Linked DNA regions of Homo sapiens. The protein of the gene in region 3 interacts with the protein of the main gene of each other region in a pairwise test. Each region holds a gene or a part of one and is shown on either strand. Other genes may lie near its edges. The genes, in order: CCDC120, SAXO4, HOMER3, LHX2, MDM1, MIA3 and C1orf116.

What was found.
Region 1: the proteins of HOMER3 (region 3) and CCDC120 interact in binary tests that used the Homo sapiens proteins (3 or more experiments, as listed by UniProt).
Region 2: the proteins of HOMER3 (region 3) and SAXO4 interact in binary tests that used the Homo sapiens proteins (3 or more experiments, as listed by UniProt).
Region 4: the proteins of HOMER3 (region 3) and LHX2 interact in binary tests that used the Homo sapiens proteins (3 or more experiments, as listed by UniProt).
Region 5: the proteins of HOMER3 (region 3) and MDM1 interact in binary tests that used the Homo sapiens proteins (3 or more experiments, as listed by UniProt).
Region 6: the proteins of HOMER3 (region 3) and MIA3 interact in binary tests that used the Homo sapiens proteins (3 or more experiments, as listed by UniProt).
Region 7: the proteins of HOMER3 (region 3) and C1orf116 interact in binary tests that used the Homo sapiens proteins (3 or more experiments, as listed by UniProt).

What each region holds. Positions count from the first base shown.
Region 1 is NC_000023.11:49,065,499-49,068,998, reverse strand, and holds part of CCDC120 (coiled-coil domain-containing protein 120), read right to left. Parts: coding exon 3,371-3,500; intron 3,253-3,370; coding exon 3,154-3,252; intron 1,824-3,153; coding exon 909-1,823; coding exon of another isoform or gene 887-908; exon of another isoform or gene 456-886; coding exon 341-455; 3' UTR 1-340. UniProt on the Homo sapiens protein: Centriolar protein required for centriole subdistal appendage assembly and microtubule anchoring in interphase cells. Together with CCDC68, cooperate with subdistal appendage components ODF2, NIN and CEP170 for hierarchical subdistal appendage assembly.
Region 2 is NC_000011.10:61,484,120-61,487,619, reverse strand, and holds part of SAXO4 (stabilizer of axonemal microtubules 4), read right to left. Parts: intron 2,933-3,500; coding exon 2,804-2,932; intron 2,283-2,803; coding exon 2,219-2,282; intron 1,822-2,218; coding exon 1,709-1,821; intron 1,277-1,708; coding exon 1,217-1,276; intron 1,097-1,216; coding exon 1,010-1,096; intron 673-1,009; coding exon 559-672; intron 475-558; coding exon 380-474; intron 1-379.
Region 3 is NC_000019.10:18,928,703-18,931,217, forward strand, and holds the end of HOMER3 (homer protein homolog 3), read right to left. Parts: intron 933-2,515; coding exon 741-932; 3' UTR 501-740; downstream 1-500. UniProt on the Homo sapiens protein: Postsynaptic density scaffolding protein. Binds and cross-links cytoplasmic regions of GRM1, GRM5, ITPR1, DNM3, RYR1, RYR2, SHANK1 and SHANK3.
Region 4 is NC_000009.12:124,028,768-124,031,284, forward strand, and holds part of LHX2 (LIM/homeobox protein Lhx2), read left to right. Parts: intron 1-2,517. UniProt on the Homo sapiens protein: Acts as a transcriptional activator. Stimulates the promoter of the alpha-glycoprotein gene. Transcriptional regulatory protein involved in the control of cell differentiation in developing lymphoid and neural cell types.
Region 5 is NC_000012.12:68,308,363-68,311,862, forward strand, and holds part of MDM1 (nuclear protein MDM1), read right to left. Parts: intron 1-3,500. UniProt on the Homo sapiens protein: Microtubule-binding protein that negatively regulates centriole duplication. Binds to and stabilizes microtubules.
Region 6 is NC_000001.11:222,621,097-222,624,596, reverse strand, and holds part of MIA3 (transport and Golgi organization protein 1 homolog isoform 1 precursor), read right to left. Parts: intron 3,439-3,500; coding exon 3,305-3,438; intron 1,291-3,304; exon of another isoform or gene 1,246-1,290; intron 1-1,245.
Region 7 is NC_000001.11:207,022,757-207,026,256, reverse strand, and holds part of C1orf116 (specifically androgen-regulated gene protein), read left to right. Parts: intron 1-1,192; coding exon 1,193-1,370; intron 1,371-2,776; coding exon 2,777-3,500. UniProt on the Homo sapiens protein: Putative androgen-specific receptor.

The DNA.
Region 1 (3,500 bases), on a different chromosome or scaffold from region 3:
CACAGTTTCCCTTTTGTAAAACGCCTAGTGTTGGAGGAAGACAGTGAATACCTAAGTCACAACTGTAAACATAAATGGAGGAAGGGGCTTGGGGTCCCCATGACATCATCCCCCCTCTTTTAAGCTAGCTGAGGGCCCCCAGTCCCCAGCACAGTGTGAGAGAAGAAGCAGGGTGTCAGACACCTTCCTGGGCCTACGGGGAGCCAGGGGCCTTGGAAGATTAGGTTGGCGCACTCTGCTCAGGACTGAGAGCAACCACACCCCAGGGCCCAGCGAGGTCAGCTGTGTGCTCCCCAGATTGGAATCGTGCCCAGGCCAACAAGGGACATATCAGAAGGGGTCAGACCAGTGTCCCCGGGGTCTGGGTGTCAGAACTGGAGGACTGCTCCCCCTCTAGCGTCAGGTCACTTAAACGAGCGCTCAGCTCCGGGGGATACAGGAAGTCCGCGTAGTATCTTTAGAAGGGGTAGCAGGAATCCGGAGGACAGGGCGGGGAAGACAAGAAGAAGAAAAGACAGACAAGACACAGAAAAAGAAAGGAAAAGAGGCTCGTTAAAGAGGTGGAGGCAGGCACAGGACAGCACTTTCAGGCTCTGGGGCATGGAGAAAAAAGGAAGAAAACAGCAAGGGGCATGAGATGTCCCTTCCTCCCGGCACCCTGGCTTCAAGGCTCATCTTCAGCCTATAACTTGATAAAGAATTGCTGCTACCAGTGCCCAAGATCCCCTCCACCAGGACCCCATGGACTAATGCAGGTCATGTGCAGTAGAGTGACCCTGTGCCATCACAGCAGCTAGTTTCCTCATGGTCCAATTCATTAGCTATCATGACTAGCCACTCCCTGGCCTGGATATCTTCGCCATCTGCCTTACGAGACCCCTACCCATCAGTAAAAGCACCCCCCATACCTGCCAGAGACAGGGGGCGCCGTGAAACTCCTCGAGTGTGGGAGTGGCGCCTGGCTGGGGGCCCCGTACAGCGCCTGGCCCACCTCATAGCAGCGGGCATGGAGGAAGGGTGGGTGTGGCGGGCCCACGGAAGGGAGCACAGGCCGGCGCTGGGGCCCCGCAGCCAGTCCCGAGTTCCGGATGTACCAGTCCCGCAGCCCCTCCAGAGCCAGGTTCTTGTGGCCACTGCGTTCACCAGCCGAGGGGATACGGGTGGGTGGGGGCATCCACAGCAGAGGGTTTGGATGCACCTCAGGGCCTTCGGCAGCCTCTGGGGGCAGGCCACAGGGCTTAGTGCGGGTGGCACGGGTGTGGGGGTCCTTGGTGCGGAGGAGGGGGCTGTTGCTGTCAGCTGCATACACAGGTGGTGGGCCGGGGAGCATGGTGAGGAGCCCATCCCGGCGGGAGAGGGGTCCTGGGACCTCAGCTGCAGGCGGCAGCTCCCCCCAGCCTGTTCCACCGCCACTGCGGGGCAGGCCCCGGTCCAAGGAATAGTCCAAGAGGAAGTCTCCACACACAGGTGGGAGCCGGGGGGCACCTCGGGAGGCAGGGGCAGCTGAGCTAGGCCGGGCGGCCCGGGGAGGGTCTGGGGGGCCTGCTGTGCGGGAGGAGAAGGCAGGGGTTGGTTGGGGGCGCTCATACAGCACCTCACTGCTCTTGCAGACTGGGGGGCCAGAGGCAGAGGGAGCCAGAGGGGCAGGCGGGGAGCCAGCTCCCCCACCAGCGGCCCGGTCCACCAGCAGGGCCTCAGAACTGTTGCTGCGGCGGGTGCGAGCTACGAAGAGGGAGGCGCGATCGGAGGCAGGGTCCGCCCGGGGGAAGCCCATCTGGGAGTCCTGGCTGCCGGACCACTGACGAGAATGAAGGCCTTCAGGTCTGGGGTGAGAGGCGAGGGTCATGGGAATAGGGTCAGAAAAATCAGGCAGAAGGCGTGCAGTGCCCTCCCTACCCCAGCCCTTTCTAAGCCTTCACTTTCACATCTCCAAATGGGCCCAAGGTTGGAAGCTGTGTGTATAAAGGTGGCAGGTAGTGACATGTAAAGGGCAGCTGAGGTTCTATCCTAGGCTAGGCGGTCAGGGGTAGAAATGCGTGGGGGAGGCCTGGCACTGTTAGCTCCAAGGGAGGTGTAAATCTGTGTAGGGACTCAGAGGAAAGGCTAGCAGAGTAGATGCCGGGCAGGGGGCTGTTCCTAATCCAGCTGACCCCTCCCCCTGCTAAGGCCGTTCTCATGGCTCGCACGGCCTCCAGGATTAAGTCCTAGGCCTTAGGGCTCACATGTAAAACCCTGCCTGAATTCTCTATCCGACCATACGTATGAACCACCCAAAGCTACCATCCCAACAGCCACCGTTCACAGAATGCAAGCCCCACAAGGAAGGGGACTTGGTTTTGTTCAGAGCCTGGGGAAAGTAGGCACTCTGTTTAAGAAGCAGAAGAGGACAGTGGTTAAAAGCATGGACTCTAGAGTAAAACTTGCCTGGGCTCAAACTCCAGGACTTCAGTTTACTAACAAGTTACTTAACCTTTCTGTGCCTCACTTGCCTCATCTATAAAATGGGAATAACAATAGCACCCACCTCACAGGGATCTGATTATGATTAAATGAGTTGATGCCACGTAAAACACTAATTCCTAGCAGATGGCAGGCACTCAGTATATGTTAACCAGAACTTATTATGTCCATGTCTTTCAAAGGCAGATATTATTATTTCCATTTCACAAATGAGGAGACTGACTCCTACCCCATTATCCACCGAGATGCCTGCTCACCTTTAATGCCCAGCCTCCCATGTCCCACACCTTTTGTTTTTTTGTTTGTTTTGAGACGGAGTTTCGCTCTTGTCGCCCAGGCTGGAGTGCAATGGCACGATGTTGATCTCAGCTCACTGCAACCTCCGCCTCCCGGGTTCAAGCGATTCTCCTGCCTCAGCCTCCGAAGTAGCTGGGATTACAGGCATGCCCCACCATGCCCAGCTAATTTTTGTATTTTTAGTAGAGACAGGGTTTCACCATGTTGGTCAGGCTGGTCTTGAACCCCTGACCTCAAGTAACCCGCCCGCCTCGGCCTCCGAAAGTGCTGGGATTACAAGCGTGAGCCACCGCGCCCAGCCATCCCACCTTTTGATAATGTTGTCCTCAAGCTTCCAGTGAGAACTAATGGTTCCCTCCCCTCTGATCCTCCAGCCCACCCTCAGATTCCCCTTACTTGCAGAGCTGGGGGCCAGCGCCCCGGGTGAGGACAGGGGTGGCAGGCACACTTCGCCCCTCAAAACTGGAGGCACTCCTGGGCAGCGAGCGTGTGGGGCTAGACAGAGACAGGCAGGCCTAGGTTAGAGACTGTACCCACCAGCAGACCCTCTGCCAGCCCAGGCTTGCTATCCCATTCCCAGCTCCTGCGGAGGGGAGGAGGGGCTCATTCTCACCTGGTGGGGCTGGCCACAGAGTTCCGCCGGCTCTTCAGATCCCCATAAAGATCTGATGGAGGTGGTTTCCATGGGGTTCGCCGCTCAGGGCTCCCCCCAGATACTGCCCGCAGCTGGTCCCAAGCCTTGG
Region 2 (3,500 bases), on a different chromosome or scaffold from region 3:
TGTTGCCCTGGGGATAGCCTTTAACCAATGACCGATGGATGTGGGGGTATAAATACCCCAGCTCTCTCACCTTTGACTGGGGTAGTTCTGAGTTGTGTGCTTTACACTGTTTTCTAGAGTTTTCCCAGTGGGATAGCTGGCCTAGTAACATGCTCATTATTGCTGCCTTCCCTCCCTCATCCCTCTTCTCCACTCCCACACGCCTAATAACTGCCTGATAACATGCTTGCACTCCAATCCTTGGCTTAGGGTATGCTTCTGGGGAACCCATATTCACTCAGCATTGATCTTCTCCACGAGGCTGTGAGCTCATTACTTATCCCAGTCTCAGTCTGTTTCTCAAATGGGTTTCAGCTTTGGACCAGGAAGCGGACCTCACCCTTGGTTGTAGGTGGTCAGGTATCGCTGATCCCTGTCAGGATCACAGGGGCTCCGGACATACATGGGGTTGTTAAGGCTGAACCCTGTGGGCTCCTGCACAAGAGGGGTAGACAGGGGAATTGTCAAGTCAGAAGGGGTGGGGATTTGGGGGTGGAGGCTAGGTGTAGCAAGTCTCACCTTTTTCCCCACAGTCTCCCGGCCAAGCAGGGCAACGTTTGTCTGTTGCATCCGATGAAGTGGCTGAAACTGCTGGTGACTCACGCTGCTGGGTTCTGGGCAGGGAGGGGGCACCTGCAGGGCACAGAACCACCAGAAGGGAGGCTGAGGTGGCCAGCCTGAGGCAGCAGGGATGGAGAGGGGAGCAGGCAGAGGCACACACAGCTGTGACCTGTCCACAGCCCCAGCGACCCTCCCTTCCCCTTCCAGCCAATTCTATTTCAGACCACACCCCTCATCTTCCAGCCCCCAGGAAGGCCCAGGCTCTCTTCACCCTCCACCTGAGGGCCTACCTCCACATCCCTAAATATCCTAATTCTTCTCATTCTTCAATGCCTGACCCAAATGCCACCTCTTCCCAGAAACCTCCCTGTCTTCTCCCTTCTCTGAGCAAGACGCCAAGGCCACTCACTCTGGGGTTCAGAATCCTTTCATTCCCTCGGCTGAAGGCTGTTTCCCGCTTGGAGCCTCTGGCCAACACAGGTAGGAACTCATCTCCCTGGAGGGAGCAAAGCAGCCACTGGCACCAGGATGTGGCTGCCTCCCCCACCACCTTCCAGAGCCATGTTCTAACTGCTCCCCGCCAGGCGGTCCCCAGCCTCCCCCTAGCTCAGCTTACATGTAGGTGAGTCTTGGGGAGGAAGTCTGACTTGGTGACACTCTGGCCTGGGAGGAGGGCCTGGAAATAGGCCCACAGAGGATGTCAGCCCCGCAGAGGCAGCCTGGGCCCCTGGTGGCTCCCACCCACTCTGCCTCCAGGCCACTGCTGTGCTGAGCACAGAGGAGGACTCAGCTCAAATGGGCATCACTGAGAAAAGGGAAGTGTTTGGGGAGAAGACAGGGGAAGGCATGACTCTGAATGGGACCAGCAGGCCAGGGCTCTTGTCTGAACTCTGAATGACATTGGCTACACCTCCTTCATCTCTTTGGACCTCAGTCTTCTCATCTATAAATGGGGGACTTGGACCAAAGCAGTGGTTTTCACCTAAGCTCTTTCGTCTTGTGTTTGAACAAAGGGCTCTGCAGCTCACATTCTTTAGGAAAGCTAGAAACCCTGAGACTGGAGGGCTTCAAGCCCCCTAAAGTTCTAGCAGGAGCCCAGCCGACTTACAGGGTCCCCAGGGAGGGCCTGTGAGGGCGGTTGGAAGACAATGGGGCTCTGGTGGGACTGTTTGGTGAAGCCACTCCCCTCCTTTGCGCCGATCGATTTCTTCTGCAAGAAATCTGCAAAAGAAATGCCCTGTGTGCTGCCAGGCCACCTGGCCCACCCATGTGTCCTCCAGAGGCTCAGTGTCCCAGCAGGTGCAGAGGGAGTGGATCCCAAGATCCTGGAGACCTGCGCCATGAGGATCGTGGGTGGCAGGGTGAGGATTCCAGAGTCCAGGCCGGAGGACAGGAGAGGGAGCAGCAGGAAGGGCATGCACCGGCCAAGCCACCCTCCTGAGAGGCCCAAGGTACTGAGGTCAGCCCGGGAGAGGCGCTTCCCTCCAGCCACCTGTGCATCCTTCTTTCTTCCACTGGTGCCTTCTCAGTCCTAGGCCAGCTCCAGGGCCCCTGGGGTAGCAAGTAGGGAGGTGGATTGGAAGATGGGAAGGGAGCTGTGAGTTCAGACAGGGCCTACCTGGCTGGTCTAGAGGGTCCCTGAGATACTTGGAATTGTACTCCGACGTCATGAAGCGTGGGCCCTGGAACAGAGAGGTTGGAGGAGTGGGGGCACTGACCCACCAGGGCCCCGAAGGCGTGTGGCGGCGGTGGAGTGGCGCCTCGGTTCTCTGTGCTCTGAGGAAGCCTGTGTGGGCCAGTACAGCACCCTGGACACAAGTCTCTGTGGGGTGGGACATCGCAGGGCCAGGAATTTCAGCACAAAGCACAGTTCCCCTGTGACTATGAATACCACGTCACACCCCACACCAGACTCCTGGTAATGAGTGGGGGGCCCAGAGGGACCGAGACCAGGAGGGGCCGTGAGCAGGAGGAGGAAGGCTGGGGGAAGAGGAGTAGCGTTAAATCGCGAGAAGCCACATTGAGGCTATTTTGGAAATAGCCAATATCAAATCCTTTGCTCTCCCATCTTTCTTGGCGCCCTGAGCCCACCCTGAGCTGGCTTCTTGGGTGAGTCAGTGCAATACTTGTCTTGAGGTGGGAGGAAGAGGCGGGTGTGGCCCCTCTGCCCCACCCCGAAGCCCTTAGCTGGGCTGCCACTCACATGTCGGAAGTTCTCCCGCTCCAGCGGGTCCTGGCCCTGCTGCTGGTGGAGCAGAGGCACTTCCCTGGGCTCCAGCCCCGTGATGGCCTGAGGCCCGTGCTCCTGGGTGTCGAAATGGACCTTCCGGACCTGGGAGGAAGAAGGGCCAATTACAAGTGAGGGGGCGGCAGTCACTCCCTGACTCTGCTTCTGCCCTTGACCTTTACAGAGCGCAGTATCTGCAGAGCAGCCAGAGGGGGTCCTTTTACAATGAAACCTGCATGTCCCCTCTCTGCTTAGAGCCCTGCAGCCTTCCCATCACACTCGCAGGGAATTCCACGTCCTCCTGGTGGCCTGCAAGGACCTGAGTGCCTCACCCTGCTCTAGCTGCTTGTCTCCTTTCTGTTCCCACCTTGAGGCCTTTGCACTTGCTGTTGGCACTGCCTGGACCACTCCTCCCTCAGACAGCTGCAACTGGAGGAGCTGGCCTCCCTCAAGTTTTTGTCCAGTGTCTCCATAGCAAGCTCTTTCCCGACCCTCCCGATTTGCAGTTGCAACTCCTTCGCTTCTAATTTATTTATTACTTACATTTTTTGAGACAGAGTCTCGCTCTGTTGCCCAGGCTGGAGTGCAGTGGCATGATCTCAGCTTCCTGCAAACTCCACCTCCTGAGTTCAATCAATTCTTGTGCCTCAGCCTCCCAAGTAGCTGGGACTAC
Region 3 (2,515 bases):
GAACACCATGTCCATTTCCACCAGGCAGGCCCAAAGTTTTGCAGACACCAGCTGCTCGAATGGCCATGGGATTTTGGGCCCTGAAGCCCCTTCTCTGGGCTTCCAGTTTCCTCATCTGGAGAATGGGCATAGCAACTGCCCTGCTCTCCAGAGGCAGCTGTGAGGCTTTGGTGAGGTCAGTCCTGTGCCGAATGGGTGCAGCTATAAGCTTCCCTGGCCACCCACCTGGCCACATCTGGGGTTTGTGGCCAGAGTGAAGGGGCCATGAAAGTCCAAATTTGGCCAGACAATGTGGGCTAAGCCCAAGGGGACAGGCAGAGAGACACCAGAGCCAGCTTCCTGGCTGTGTGGCCTGGACCCCCCTCGGACTCCAAGCCTCACCCCTCATCTGCAAGCGGCTTATAACTGCTACATGGATTCAGGGGCACCCAAAAAGACGCAGGGAAAGGCGCCGGCGACATGTTAAGTGCCCAGATACCCACATACCACACACACACAGCCACGCTTAGAAATGTAATCGGGGGATCTAGAAATTCTACACAATGAGAAGCTCAAAAACAGCCCCAAAGCTGCCAACAACCAGAGCCGACTGGGGCCCACCCCAGCCCAGCCCGGCCCGGCCCACCCAGGGCTAAGTTGGGACCCCCCAGTCCCTTTCCAGGACGAATGGGCCCAACTATGCCGCCTGCAGCCTGGCCCGCATCCCAGGCCGGAATCGTTCATAGAAAACCAGCCCCGGCTCAGGGCGCAGCCTCAGCCAGGCGGGCCAGGCCCTCACGCAGCTCACTCAGCTCAAACAGGCTGACGTCCAGCAGCTGCGCTGCCCGGCCCACCTCAGCCCGCGCCCGCTCCCGCTCTGCCCGTGCCTCCTCCAGGCTGCGCTCCATCGCCCGCAGCTGGTGCTCCAACTCCGCATTGCGGGTCTCCAGGTCCTGCCAGGAAAGGGTGGGCAGGGTTGGGGGCCCCAACAAATCACCAGTCCTGCCCGAGGCATCCAGAGTCTGACCACCTTCATGTCCCTCTTCTGCCCAGAGCCATCCTAGGGCGCCCAACACACCAGGAATAAAATGCACACCCCACAGGGGCCTAGCTTCTGCCCTCATTTCTTTTGTTTGTTTGTTTGTTTTTGAGAAGGAGTTTCGCTCTTGTCGCCCAGGCTGGAGTGCAATGGCGTGATCTCGGCTCACTACAACCTCCGCCTCCCAGGTTCAAGCAATTCTCCTGCCTCAGCCTCCCAAGTAGCTGGGATTACAGGCATACACCACCACGCCCAGTGATGGCTTACACCTGTAATCCCAGAACTTTGGGAGGCGGAGGCAGGTGGATCCCCTGAGGTCAGGAGTTCAAGACCAGCTTGGCCAACATGGTAAAACTCCATCTCTACTAAAAATACAAAAATTAGCTGGGCATGGTGGTGCACACCTGTAGTCCCAGCTACTCTGGAGGCTGAGGCAGGAGAATCGCTTGAGCTCAGAAGGCGGAGCTTGCAGTGAGCCGAGATCGCGCCACTGCACTCCAGCCTGGGTGACAGAGTGAGACTCCATCTCAAAAAAAAAAAAAAAAGGCTGGGCGCAGTGGTTTACGCCTATAATCCCAGCACTTTGGGAGGCCGAGGCGAGTGGATCATAAGGTCAAGAGATCGAGACTATCCTGGCTAACATGGTGAAACCCCGTCTCTACCAAAAAATACAAAAAATTAGCCGGGCATGGTGGCGAGCACCTGTAGTTCCAGCTACTCGGGAGGCTGAGGCAGGAGAATGGAGTGAACCTGGGAGGCGGAGCTTGCGCCACTGCACTCCAGCCTGGGCAACAGAGTGAGACTCCGTCTCAAAAAAAAAAAAAAGTACCCCCTGAACATTTCTCAGATAAAGCCTTTAGCAAAAGCCAAGCCAAGGCCAGTCGTGGTGACTCAAGCCTATAATCCCAGCACTTTGGGAGGCTGAGGGCAGATTGCTCACGGTCAGGAGTTCGAGACCAGTCTGGCCAACATGAGGAAACCCCATCTCTACTAAAAACACAAAAAATGCCCGGGCACGGTGGCGCATGTCTGTAATCCCAGCACTTTGGGAGGCCGAGGCGGGCAAATCATGAGATCAGGAGTTGAGACCAGCCTGGCCAACATGGTGAAACCCTGTCTCTACTAAAAATACAAAAAATTAGCTGGGTGTAGTGGCGGGCGCCTGTAATCCCAGCTACTCAGGAGGCTGAGGCAGGAGAATTGCTTCAACCCGGGAGGTGGAGGTTGCAGTGAGCTGAGATCGTGCCATTGCACTCCAGCCTGGGCAACAGAGCGAGACTCCATCTCAAAGAATTAAAAAAAAATAAAGCCAAGCCAAGCCAGACCTAGTTCCAATGCAGGCTCTGTGATCTCAGGCTGAGAACAGGAGGAATTGACGGGGTCTGGCATGGGAATACAGCAGGAACTCAAGCATTGCTTGTTGAACCCATAGATGGATATGAAACTGTACCAACAGCCACTGTTCACGCGGCACCTGCTGGGCATCAGGCCTTCCAC
Region 4 (2,517 bases), on a different chromosome or scaffold from region 3:
CCTTTGGCAAGTGGTTTTACCACTCTGACCCTCTCTGGTTTTTAAATCTATACAGTGAGGGCAGGCACGGTGGCTCATGCCTATAATCCCAGAACTTTGGGAGGCCAAGGTGGGCGGATCACCTGAGGTCAGGAGTTCAAGACCAGCCTGGCCAACATGGTGAAACTCCGTCTGTACTAAAAATACAAAAAAATTAGCCAGGCATGGTGGCGGGTGCCTGTAATCCCAGCCACTCAGGAGATTGAGGCAGGAGAGAATCACTTGAACCTGGGAGGCAGAGGTTGAAATGAGCTGAGATCGTGCCACTGCACTCCAGCCTGGGTGACAGAGCAAGACTCTGTCTCAAAAAATAATAATAATAATAATAATAGTCAATAAATAAATCTATAAAATGGGAATAATAATAGTCGAATCCACCTACTTGGCTTTTCATGGGAATAACCTGTGGCAGTGCATGCTGGAGGGTGGCATGGAGCCTGGCACATAGTAAAAGGTACATACATGTCAGCCATTCCTATGAATACATATTACTGATTCTTAATCTCTGCCAGTCTCTGCCATGCACCGGGGGACATGAAGATAGCATAGAAAGGGTCCCTGCTCCCATCAAACTCTCAGGAGTGGACTTTTTGAAATACCTGGGAGAGAATTCTAGTGAAGCCCTGACAACATGAAGAACAAACCCCACACAACCCCAGAGCAGCCGGGCTTTTAATGAAGTTGTTGAATTTTCATCTACCAGATTCCCAGTGCCTCAGCTCTGGAAAGCAGAGAAGGTAGTTGTGGACGATGGTGTCATTGTTTACAAGCCCACTGTTAGGGGCAACAGCCTGAGAAATAGCAAACAGCCGGCAACTAACCGGGTCCAGCCCTGCCCGAGGTCTTGGAGCCCCGGATGGATGAGCAAATGAGCACCCGGCAAAGCACCCTCAAACCCTCGACCCAGGCTCCCCGCTCCAGCTACTGCTCTGAGAGTCAGACGCACAGAGCACAGGCTGCTCAGGGGTCACACGCACACAGGCCAGGACAGTGGCAAGGCAGCGGCACCAAGGCTCCGGCCTTCTCCACCCCAATCTGCATGACTTTGGGGAAGTCACTTCCTCTCTCTGAGGGCCTCTGGGGGCTTCCCCATCCATTTTCTTTAGGCCACCAGGACACAGTCTCTCCCCTACAGATTTCTGCTGGCCGGGAAAGGGAAGGACCCCCCCACCCCAGGGAAAGCATGTCAAGGGTGGTCTGAGAAGCACTGTACTTATTTGCCAGCCCCCAGAAGGGGTGATGGGCTTTCTTTGGGCGGAGAGCCAGGGAAAATGTGCCTTCTTCCTGGGAAGATCCAGCACTGAGGAGGGAGCTTGGTTTCTCCACTTCACAGGGTCTGGATCTCCCACTTTACTCCAAGATTCTTGTGGATTTGCTTTTAATTGAGCCCAAATTGTGTTACGCCACCAGAAACGGGGGTTTGAGGCCACAGGCCCCTGCAGCCGGGGTGGTCCCAAGGGGTGCGTGGGGCCAGGAGTCAGCCCTCCCTCTCCTGCCAGAGACACTGGGAAGACAGGCAGATGCAGGACATCTGGAAATGCGCAACTGGACACCCCAGAATCTGCAGAGTGCCCTGAGGCCCTTTGTTTTATGGGGAGGCTTCTGGCGGGTGTTTTCCTCACGCAAAGGGAAGTGAAGGGGCCCTGCCTTTCAGGACTTTTTCCTTGGAAGGTTCAACCCCCCCAGAGTGGCCTGGATTTCCTAAGCCCCTCCCAAAGTACTTCGTGGACCTCTGGGTACAGCGGGTCCCTGTGTTTGTGCTGTTAGATGGGTGGTGGTACTTAGGTGCTGGCTGTGTAGATGAATTTCATTTTTCTTTTCTTTTTTTTTTTTTTTTTTTTTTGAGATGGAGTCTTGCTCTGTGGCCCAGGCTGGAGTGCAGTGGTGGGATCTTGGCTCACTGTATCCTCCGCCTCCCGGGTTCAAGCAGTTCTTCTGTCTCAGCCTCCCGAGTAGCTGAGGTTACAGGAGCGCACCATCACACCCAGCTAATTTTTTATATTTTTAGTAGAGATGGGGTTTCACCATGTTGGACAGGCTGGTCTCGAACTGCTGACCTCAAGTGATCCACCTGCCTCGGCCTCCCAAAGTGCTGGGATTACGGGCTTGAGCCACTGTGCCCGTCCTTAGATGAATTTCTGTGTGTCTTCCTGAATGCTTACAGGCGTGTGTGCAAAGATATGGGAGTGGACGCGTGTGTGTCTGTGCCCAAGGAAAAATGAAAGTAAACCCATGTTCTCTCACTGACATTCTTTTCAGACAGAGCTCAGCCCCAGCTCTGCGCCCCGCCGCACGTCCCTCATAAGTCGATACGGGATGCAGCAGGTCGGGAGAGAGACTCTGCGGGTTTCAACTTCCCTGGCCTCACTTTAATTTGGCTGCCGTTCCCACGCTGCCTACCTCCACCCACCTCCACCCTGAGACCTGACACCCAGTGGCCCAGGGTACCTGGTGGCTCCCCCAACCGATGATGGGGAT
Region 5 (3,500 bases), on a different chromosome or scaffold from region 3:
TGATCCACCTGCCTTGGCCTCCCAAACTGCTGGAATTACAGGCATGAGCCACTGCGCCCGGCCCCTGTTCTTTCTAATTGGAAAACAATCTCTGCCCCAGATCTCTGCATGGGCACCTTCCTCATCAGTCAGGTCTCAGCTAAAACGTCATCTCCTTAGAGGTGCCTGTCCTGATGGCCCAAACTAAAGCTGTCTTACCCATCCCTTAGAGACCTGTAGTCTTATTTAATTCACAGCGCTTACTACTATGTGAAATTATTTTCTTAAAAAATTGTCTATTCCTCCCAATGAAAATGTAAGCTTCATGAAGGCAGGGATTTTGACCTGATTATCAATAAATCCTCAGATCCTAGAACAGTGCCTGGCACTTGGTAAGAGCCTATTAAATATTGAATTGAATGAATGAAAATAAAACTACCCTCCAAAGAGGCTCCTTGTCCAGAGTTCTCTTGCTCAGTGCATGGTACCTCCATCAATCTTGTTGGGCAAGCCAGAAACTTAGCAGGCATCCCTGTCTCTCATCCATTATCCAACCCAGCATCAACCTTAACATTGTTCCCCTTACATAATTGTGCAGTTTCATCCACTTCTGTCTATTCCTACCCTCCTTCATCCAAGCTACCAACACCTCCTACGTGGACTACTGCAATGGCCTTTTAAGGGCATTCACAGCCTACTCTTGCCTCCTATGGCAGCCGGACAGATCTTGCAAAACATATATCCATCACAATTCCCATACTGAAAATATTTCAATGGCTTCCCATTGCTCTTGAGATAACGAAAGAAATCCCAATGTTGCCATGTTTTCCAGCCTCATGTTGTACCAGGCTCCCTGCCACACACTGTATTGGTCTTTGTTTCCTCAAACTCTACATTGTTTCTCTCCACAAGATCTTGGCATATGCTAGGCTCCTTCTCCCCATCCTTTTTTCCTGGTTAATGCTTCCTCTTCTCCTTTATCTTAGCTCAATTATGAGTTTTTCAAAGAAGCATCATTGACTTCCAAGAAGGTTTCTGATCTCCATGATTAGAACAATTCCTTCCAGAATAGTGCTAAGTACTTTTATTTTGAAACTCTTATTAGTTTTAATTTCATTTCTTTTTTGGTGTGATTAACATGTATCTCCCTTACCAGACTGCAGGTTTCATAAGATTATGTACCATGTCTGTTTCTATCCATTATCATTGCCATAGCATGTGGGTAAATCTGCTAAATGAATGAAGTGAGCAAATCCACACTTGGGTTTTTAATATAAAGATTTGAAAATGTTTCCTGATGATCAAACCAATATGAGAATTCTACCCTAAAGTTTTGGGACATACTGATAATTTATTGGAAATTGAATGACCTATGGGTTTAATTTTATACATAATAATAACGTAATTTCTTATCAATGCTTTTATAAGAGAATATAAGGGGAAAAACTGATGGTGTATATCAAAGTTTAGTGACTCCTCTGCCTACCAGTAACCAAGGGGTAGACACTGGGAAATAACCAAATCTAGCTAGCTCCTGGTATAGTCCCTGGTAGTGCTGGTCGCAGAAAATTCACATGGAAGGATATCCAATCAAGTTGTCAATAATAAACTTGTGTACGTATGTACATATGTATGTATTTATTGGTTTGGAGAGAGTCTTCCTCTGTCTTCCAGGCTGGAGTGCAGTGGCGTGATCTCAGCTCACTCCAACCTCCACCTCCTGGGTTGAAGTGATTCTTGTGCCTCAATCTCCCAAATGGCTGGGATTACAGGCATCTGCCACCACGCCCAGCTAATTTTTGTATTTTTAGTAGGGACAAGATTTCCCCATGTTGGCCAGGCTGGTCTTGAACTCCTGGCTTCATGTGATCCTCCCACCTTGGCCTCCCAAAGTGCTGGGATTATAAACATGAGCTACCGCACCAGGCCAGAAACTTATTTTAGAGGAGTTGGTAATTAAAATGTTAAAAGTGTATAGTACTCACAGTGAGACAGAGAATGGCATTAACATTCTAAGGGATGATATTACTCTATTTAGATTATTCAATAAATTAATTCCACAGTAAGTGAAAATAATACATATAAATCCAGCCACAAATATGGATGAGTCACTCGTTTTGGCTGAATCAGCTGTGTGTATACAGTTGCCTAAAAGCTCACACCTTCCAGATGGCAGCCTGGATTTCTAAGGAGGAGTAAAACAGTCCATTAAGATCTGATTCTCATGAGTCCTCTGACCATATTCCTAATGTCACATTTCCTTTAATAAACCAGTGTATACATAAGCAACAGGAAATAGTTTTGATATTCTGTCACTCCAATAACATTCATTCAATCTGTTACGTGCTATGAGCTGGACTCTGTTCTAAGCACTGGGGATTAAGAGGTAGAGGGTGCTCTGATCCCATCTCCCACCTGTTCCCAATCCCTGAAAACTCCTACTTTGTACTCAAATTCACAAACAGCCATCAGCAAAATTCCCTATAGATTTTCAACCTTTTCTCTGAATGTTCTCTATTCTACTCCAACCACTTACACCCATGATGTTAAGTTAAGCCTTGTCATTACTGGTAACTGCAACCTCTCCATAACCTAAATTTCTGACCACCATTTCCTAACTTTAAAACTAATCCCCACAGGTGCCCCAATTCCAACAAGTCTTTTATTTTACCTAGACCATCCATCCACCGATCCTATCACCTCTGCACTCTTCTCAAGTCCCAGTGTCCTTCCCTCACCAACTCATTATAATCCCTTCTTCATATATACCTCAACTCCATTCCCCTTTTTCTCACTTTGTCTTATTCTCATGACAAATTCAAAACCCTAGGTAAATCCAACTCTATCTGATAAAAGTATCCTGCACTTCTGCAGCCAAACATTACTGGAGAAGGGCACACAACCCTTCCTGACTGGTCTTCTGCCAACTTTGTGACCACCAACTTAAAATGGCCCCTTAACATTGGCCTAAAATATCCCACATTCCCCTGGCCCACTCACTCTCCCACTCTCTGAGAAGACTACTCTATGCCTTCACTTTCCTCAAATCTCCAACATCTTCCCCAGCCTTATTCTCAGTAAGGATCTTTCTTCACATGTCACCAAGAAGCAATAAGAAGAGGTCTTCCAAAAGCTGCCATCACATCTTCCTACATTCATCAGCAGTGCCTGCCCATGAATTCTGCTTTCCCTCTTTTAACAATAAAGAAACAATCAGTGTCTAAAGCCAACCCTTCCATATCTCCACCAGATCCTAAGCCCTTTCTCCTACTCAAGAGCATCTTTCCAACAACTTTCCCCTCACTCCTGCATCATCAACTTTTCTCTCTCCAAAATTATTCTTGTCAACATACAAACATGCTGTTGTGTCTTCCATCTTGTTCTCACTTCTCTCAACTACTCCTGCATTACTCTGCTTCCCTTCTTGGAAAAGAAACTTCAGAGAATTATCTGTGGCAGCTTTCTCCAATTCTTCTCCTCTTTTTTCTCTTGAATTCACTTGCACTTAGGCTTTTGTCCCT
Region 6 (3,500 bases), on a different chromosome or scaffold from region 3:
ACTTTGTATGGGTCCCAGAGTGTTATTCAAGGTTTACAGTATTGCACTAAACACAAAAAATACATGAGAACCACAAGAGATCACTTTTTACTCACTGTACAATTTACTGGAGAGATGAACTGCTCACGTGGAAATGATTAGCGTCGCATGGCATTTTAAGTGGATACTCACAATACTTGAGCTCACTAGAATAGCAAGAGGAGGTGGCTACGAACTATTATAGTACAGTAGGTAGCACAATTAATTTATGCAATTATGATTTAATATTTTATCTTTACGTTTGTTTATATTTCTCTCGACTGCAAAAGGTGCCATGTAAGATCTGAGTTTGTGTGTGTACGTTTTGATAAACTGTAACTTTTTATACAGATTTGTGTATGTTTTATGGTAGTAAAGAATAAAATACACTAGGATCTACATATGGTTTACATGTCAATAACATACCTTTTTCTTAATTTTTTCAGTATTTCTAGGCTATGCGGTCTGAGAGTTTTTAACAAATTAATGCAAACCTCCACAAAATTTTACAATATATTTATTGAAAGAAATCTGCATTATAAGTGGACCCACACAGTTCAAACCTGTGTTGCCCAAGGATGAACTGTATTTGCACATATGATGTGCTATACTGCCATTTTCCAAAACGATATTACAGGTAACTGGAGACAAAACAAAATTACAGTGTAATACACACTAATCTGCCCACCAAGCTTTCATTTCATGCAAACCAAAATCTCTACAGAAAATAATTCCATTCATTTTCAGCACTAGTAAAATGTGCCCTCTTGAGAAACACACAGTCTTTTACTAGCTACTGTCTGAAAGGAGAGGTAGATCTCCCAATCATTAAAGGAGGAGGCTGGCATGTAAATCAAATGCACAAAAAGAAAAAAAGGCCATCTTATCACTAATTCATAAAACATCTCCATTCATGAGTGCTCTTGATCTGAAAACTATCTGAAAGCCAGTATTAGTAGTAAAATACTGCCATGGAGATTAGATAAGGGCAATTAAACTCTGTGTTATTGGCAGATCAAGTCTAAAATGCTAAGAAACCAAAAAAGACTGCAGAATGAAAACTAAGAAACAAATGAGAATCATTTTGAAAGCTGAAGACAGAGTTTTTAATTTCCTAAGAATAAGGTTCATCAAATTAGAGGGGAGACTATTTTAAGGGAGAACCTGGAAAAAGGAAACAAATCAGAGGTAGAGGTATATAGGGAAAGGGAAATACAATACATTTACCTTCCTTAATCTTTGTCAGTTGGGACCACAGGTGGCATCTCATTTCTTATGATTTGACCAAAAAAAAAACAAAAAAAAAAACATAGGCTCACATGACAAGAAAAAATCTTTATGTCTAATTTTGCTTTCATACATCATTTCTGCCAAGGTACTGTTGATTTCATTTGGGCGGGGGGTAGGAGGGAAAGTAGAGTATCGCCTTAAGAGAACAAATTCTGCATAAGATAATATCAGGACAAATATAAATAAATGCCACTGCCTCGTCAGGAAATACTGAAAAAGAAGACAGATAAGGCATGAGCCTTTCCATTAAAGAGTCTTTCACTTTACGTGAGCTAAGACAGTACACAAATTAACTGCCATACAAAGCAGTAAAGCAAATGCCACATGAACAGTGCAAACAAAGTGCCACCTAAACAATCATCAGGCAGCAAAGATCCCTTCTGGCTGGGTGCTGAAGGCAGCGTTCCTTAAGAAGGCAGGATGAGAGGTGTGACCCAGAAAGACTGACAGGACATCCAGAGATGAAGACGTGAATGAGCAAAACTGCAGTGGGAGGAAAATGTTAAGTCAAGTTCATTCATCCAAATGCTCAAAGATGAGGAGTGGAAAAAAAAACTTAACTTTTCTATGAAAAAACGCAGCCTAGGTACATGGAAAAACATTTCCAAGAGTAAAGATTATCAACAAATCTCATTAGGTAGACTTGAAGGAAATAGAATAGATTTGTTTTGGTATGGAGCAAGTCACTTGGGATGCTCTCTAAATAGGAGAGCTGAACCTGACCAGTTGTTGTTTCCCAAGATTACTCCCTAGGAACCTGGAATGCCAACAAAATCAGTCTATTTTCCCCAAGGGGATTTCTCAAGCCTTATTTTCTCTTTGTTTGTTTGGTGTTTTACTGACAGTGAAAACTTTCATAGTCGGGATGGGTATTTCTCTAAGTTGGGACAATCCTAAAGATATCGAGGACCCTTACTACTTGAAGTAAAGACACAGTCCACATATCACGCTTTCTAAAAAGGAAAGGACAATAACTCATAAGACAGGCCTCTCAATCAGGTCACTCCCAGTGAATCTCCTCATTAAAAATACCAAAGCATGATGCAGTCATTGATTGCCAGGTCTGATAGCAGGGTACCCATAAAATCAGCTGGGAATCAATCCCCTGGGGTAACCTCCAGACACAAGTGTCTGAAAAGCAGGACAAGGATGACCCCAAGGCTGCAAACAAAAATACAAACAAGAGGCTGGTTGCGGTGGCTCACGCCTGTAATCCCAGCACTTTGGGAGGTCAAGGTGGGTGGATCACAAGGTCAGGAGATCGAGACCTAGCTAACACAGTGAAACCCCGTCTCTACTAAAAAAATACAAAAAATTAGCCGTGTGGTGGCAGGCACCTGCAGCCCCAGCTACTCGGGAGGCTGAGGCAGGAGAATGGCGTGAACCCGGGAGGCGGAGCTTGCAGTGAGCCGAGATCGCGCCACGGCACTCCAGCCTGGGCGACAGAGCAAGACTCCGCCTCAAAAAAAAAAAAACAAACAAACAAGAAAGCACACGAGAAACAACATTTTGCTTTTTTACAGACTTATAATAGCACAGATGATTAGGGAACTGTTCCCAAGACTGCCACTTTTTCATAAATAATAATATAAACAAAGAAATACACATAAAATCAACTTTAAGCTTACATGCCTGAAACACTCTCTCACATATAGTTTACAGGAGTAAGTCTAATTCCTATGAATACTTCCTTTTTAAAGCAATGAAGTATTTTTCAGCTCTTACCATTTCAACCTCTAATACGTATGCAGCATCCTAGAGGTTGACCCTGAGGGGAACTTGCCAGAATCAGTTCTATTTCAGAAGGCTCTGCTGAGCCCCTACTCTGTGCAGACCCAAGGCCTGCTGGGGACACAGGGCCATCTTTTTTCACAGTCAGGCAGAGAGGACAAGTTAACTCCATCAAAGGTCCCAAGAAAATGCAGTCATTTAACTCTACAGTGCTAAAGAAGCCAATAAAAATTAAGCAAATAAAGTATGTCGATATTTTACTTACACTTCCAGCCCAAACTTCAGGCCATCCTCTTGCCAGTTTATAGTAAACATATACAGGATCACCTTTTTTAAAATTCACAAAACGACAATCCGGGCCTGTGAAATCTTCAAGAGCCTCACCGCGGTACATTAACACTGTATATAAAGAGAGAGAAAAAAAATAGCCAGATATCAGGATTCAGTGTTCACAGTGCATA
Region 7 (3,500 bases), on a different chromosome or scaffold from region 3:
TAACATGTAGGCCCACATGCGAAAGGAAGTTCCAGAGGCAAATGGAAGGGTTATTCTGCAACCCTCTCCCCTCCCTCCAGGATATTTTTAGAGCTGTCTCAAAATCTTTCCTGGCCATCTGAGTGGGCCTGAAGAATATACAACTCTGAAGTGTCCCAAATATTAGGAAAAGGGCTGGAGATGCCAAGAAGAGACTTGGCCCAAATTTCTTATATTCCAATTTGCCCTTTTGTTTTCCCTTCAACCTCCTCTGTGGAAGAGCAACTATTCCAGCAAACTTCTAGCCCCATACAACATAGACAGTAACTGTCTGAGATGACCATTATTATTTTCTTCCAAAAACCTCTATGTACTCTCTCATAATGAATATGATCTACTTTAAGATCTACTTAATATTTAATACTAAGCTGCTTTTCCCTCCTCCCATACCATCCAGTTTCTCCACCAACCTCCCCCTTTAAGTTAATATTTGCTTTAGAAATGCACACTTACTTGAACATTAGCCAGAGCCAAATGTCATCAAGAAAGTAAATGTACAAGGGGAAAAATTCCCGTATGGAATGCATTTCAAAGTCAAGTACAAATCATTTAGTACATTTATCTGTGGCCAGTCATGCCACAGTTCCTACTGGCCTGGCAGCTCATAGCTGGCTTCATTTCCTGCTTTTCCTCATACTGCCCTTGACATACCAGATCAAGTATGCAGAAGTACTTTTAAAAGTTAAAAGCAATACCACTGAAGTTTCAGGTCAAATTGTTATGTTGCACTTCTTATTTGGAGCTAAATCAGAGGTGCTCAAAGTGAGATGTTTGACAAAGGCTGTCAAACATTGAAACTTGGGACTGCTTCTAATCTGTGCCCCTAAGCATTCAAGCCAGGACTGAGCAAAAGAAAGGCCCCTGCCATGTGCCTGCCCAGCTCCAGAGCTGGGCGCTAGTGGGCCAGCCTCCTGACAGACTCTGCCCTCCCTGGTGCCTACAGTTTCAGGAGGCAACTCCAGCAGCTTTGCAGAGTAGCAGGAGGGAAAGGTTTCCAGCTCTTCAGCATTCCTTCCTCTCTGCAGGGTGGTTCTCAGGCCCCGCCAGTTTCTGCGGAGGGAGCGCTTTCTCACAGCTCTCTCTCCCTCTCCTGTTCTTCTTCTCGCCCTCCCCCCCGCCTCCCCGCCCCCGCCCCCAACCCCAAACCCAACAGAGTGATAGCAGCTACGACTTCCTGTCCACTGAAGAGAAGGAGTGTCTGCTCTTCCTGGAGGAGACCATTGGCTCACTGGACACGGAGGCTGACAGCGGACTGTCCACTGACGAGTCTGAGCCAGCCACAACTCCCAGAGGTTTCCGAGCACTGCCCATAACCCAACCCACTCCCCGGGGTAAGGCAGACCCTCTGGGGTGGAACCCCAGCAAAACCCAGAAAATCAATATGTCCCCTCCGGCCACTTTCTACCTCGCCTGCCCTCTACCCCAAGGGTCACAGGCAGAAGAAGGTGTAGCCACACTCCTCACCACTCTCCTGGCTAGAACAGAGCCTTGTCCCTGGAGGGAAGGAGGGACCCCTGGCAAGCCAGCTTCCTATGTCTGTCTATGAAGTATCAGAGCTCTAGAAGGGAAAGGGGTTTGACCAGCTCCCATTCTCCTGTGGAAAAATTCTAAAGAGATATGACCGCAGAGGCGGGGGAGGGAGTCAGGGAGGGCTGGGTGGTTGGCTCTGGAGAGACTGAGTCAGTCTAGAGAGCTAATCTGGGTGACACAGAGGACAAGGGTAGGAGAGATAAGGAGAAGGAAGGGCTCCCCAGCTGCAGTGGGAAGTACCTCAAGGCCCTCGTTAGAGAGCGTGGAAAGCCAGTGGTATTCAGGCTCAGCAGAAGGGGAACAAAACAACACACAAGTGTGGCCATGACTGTGGGGCCACATGTCCCAGGGTGTGAGAAACCTTTTACTCCTGAGGACAGTCCCGCTGGTATTGGGGCTGCAGTTTTGTGTTGTTTCATTTAGCAAATATTTATTAACAAGTAGTTAGACCTTCCCTGGAGCTAGAGCTATAAATGGGGACGTAGGGCTTTCCTGCTCCATGAGGCTGATTCACTGGCCCAGGGGGCCTGATGTACCTGCCTAGCTCACTGGAAGGAAAGGAGTCACTTTCTGGTGTGGGGACACTATGGCTATTACAGAATTATCCACATGCTCATAGAAAGTGCAAGTAGAAGGCAGAAGCCTGGTTGAATCAAGAGCAAATCACTTATTCAGAGGCTTGCATTGGGCTCAGTTATCTGGGAGGCCCAAAATAGCTAGAAGGAACTGTCCCAAATTTATCTCCAACCCTGGTGCCTCTGTAGAAAACTGGGGAGAGGTCAAGTCAATAACTTAGAGCAATCAGGGGTCACTCTCTTGCCGCCCATCATGAAAAATTAATTCTCAGTCAAAAAAAGATATGCTATTATTATTTGTAGAAATGGGGGTCTCTTATGTTGCCCTGGTTGGTCTCGAACTCTTGGGCTCAAATGATCCACTTGCTTTGGCCTCCCAAAGTGCTGGGATTACAGGCATGAGACACTGCGCCTGGCCCTGGATCTGCTATTACTGATCTATTAGTCTAAATGATATCCAGACAAAAGTGCTGCTCTTGTAAAAGCAAAGAAAACAAGGCAAAATAAAACCCATTCATTGCTAGTTTGGGATCAGAGTTCAGGAAGTCATTGCTTTCCCCTCTGCAGCAGGGCCCTCACCTCTGTCCACTCTTTTTCTGTCCACTCTTTTATGTTCTTTCTGACCCTCACAGGAGGTCCAGAGGAGACCATCACTCAGCAAGGACGAACGCCAAGGACAGTAACTGAGTCCAGCTCATCCCACCCTCCTGAGCCCCAGGGCCTAGGCCTCAGGTCTGGCTCCTACAGCCTCCCTAGGAATATCCACATTGCCAGAAGCCAGAACTTCAGGAAAAGCACCACCCAGGCTAGCAGTCACAACCCTGGAGAACCGGGGAGGCTTGCGCCAGAGCCTGAGAAAGAACAGGTCAGCCAGAGCAGCCAACCCAGGCAGGCACCTGCCAGCCCCCAGGAGGCTGCCCTTGACTTGGACGTGGTGCTCATCCCTCCGCCAGAAGCTTTCCGGGACACCCAGCCAGAGCAGTGTAGGGAAGCCAGCCTGCCCGAGGGGCCAGGACAGCAGGGCCACACACCCCAGCTCCACACACCATCCAGCTCCCAGGAAAGAGAGCAGACTCCTTCAGAAGCCATGTCCCAAAAAGCCAAGGAAACAGTCTCAACCAGGTACACACAACCCCAGCCTCCTCCTGCAGGGTTGCCTCAGAATGCAAGAGCTGAAGATGCTCCCCTCTCATCAGGGGAGGACCCAAACAGCCGACTAGCTCCCCTCACAACCCCTAAGCCCCGGAAGCTGCCACCTAATATTGTTCTGAAGAGCAGCCGAAGCAGTTTCCACAGTGACCCCCAGCACTGGCTGTCCCGCCACACTGAGGCTGCCCCTGGAGATTCTGGCCTGAT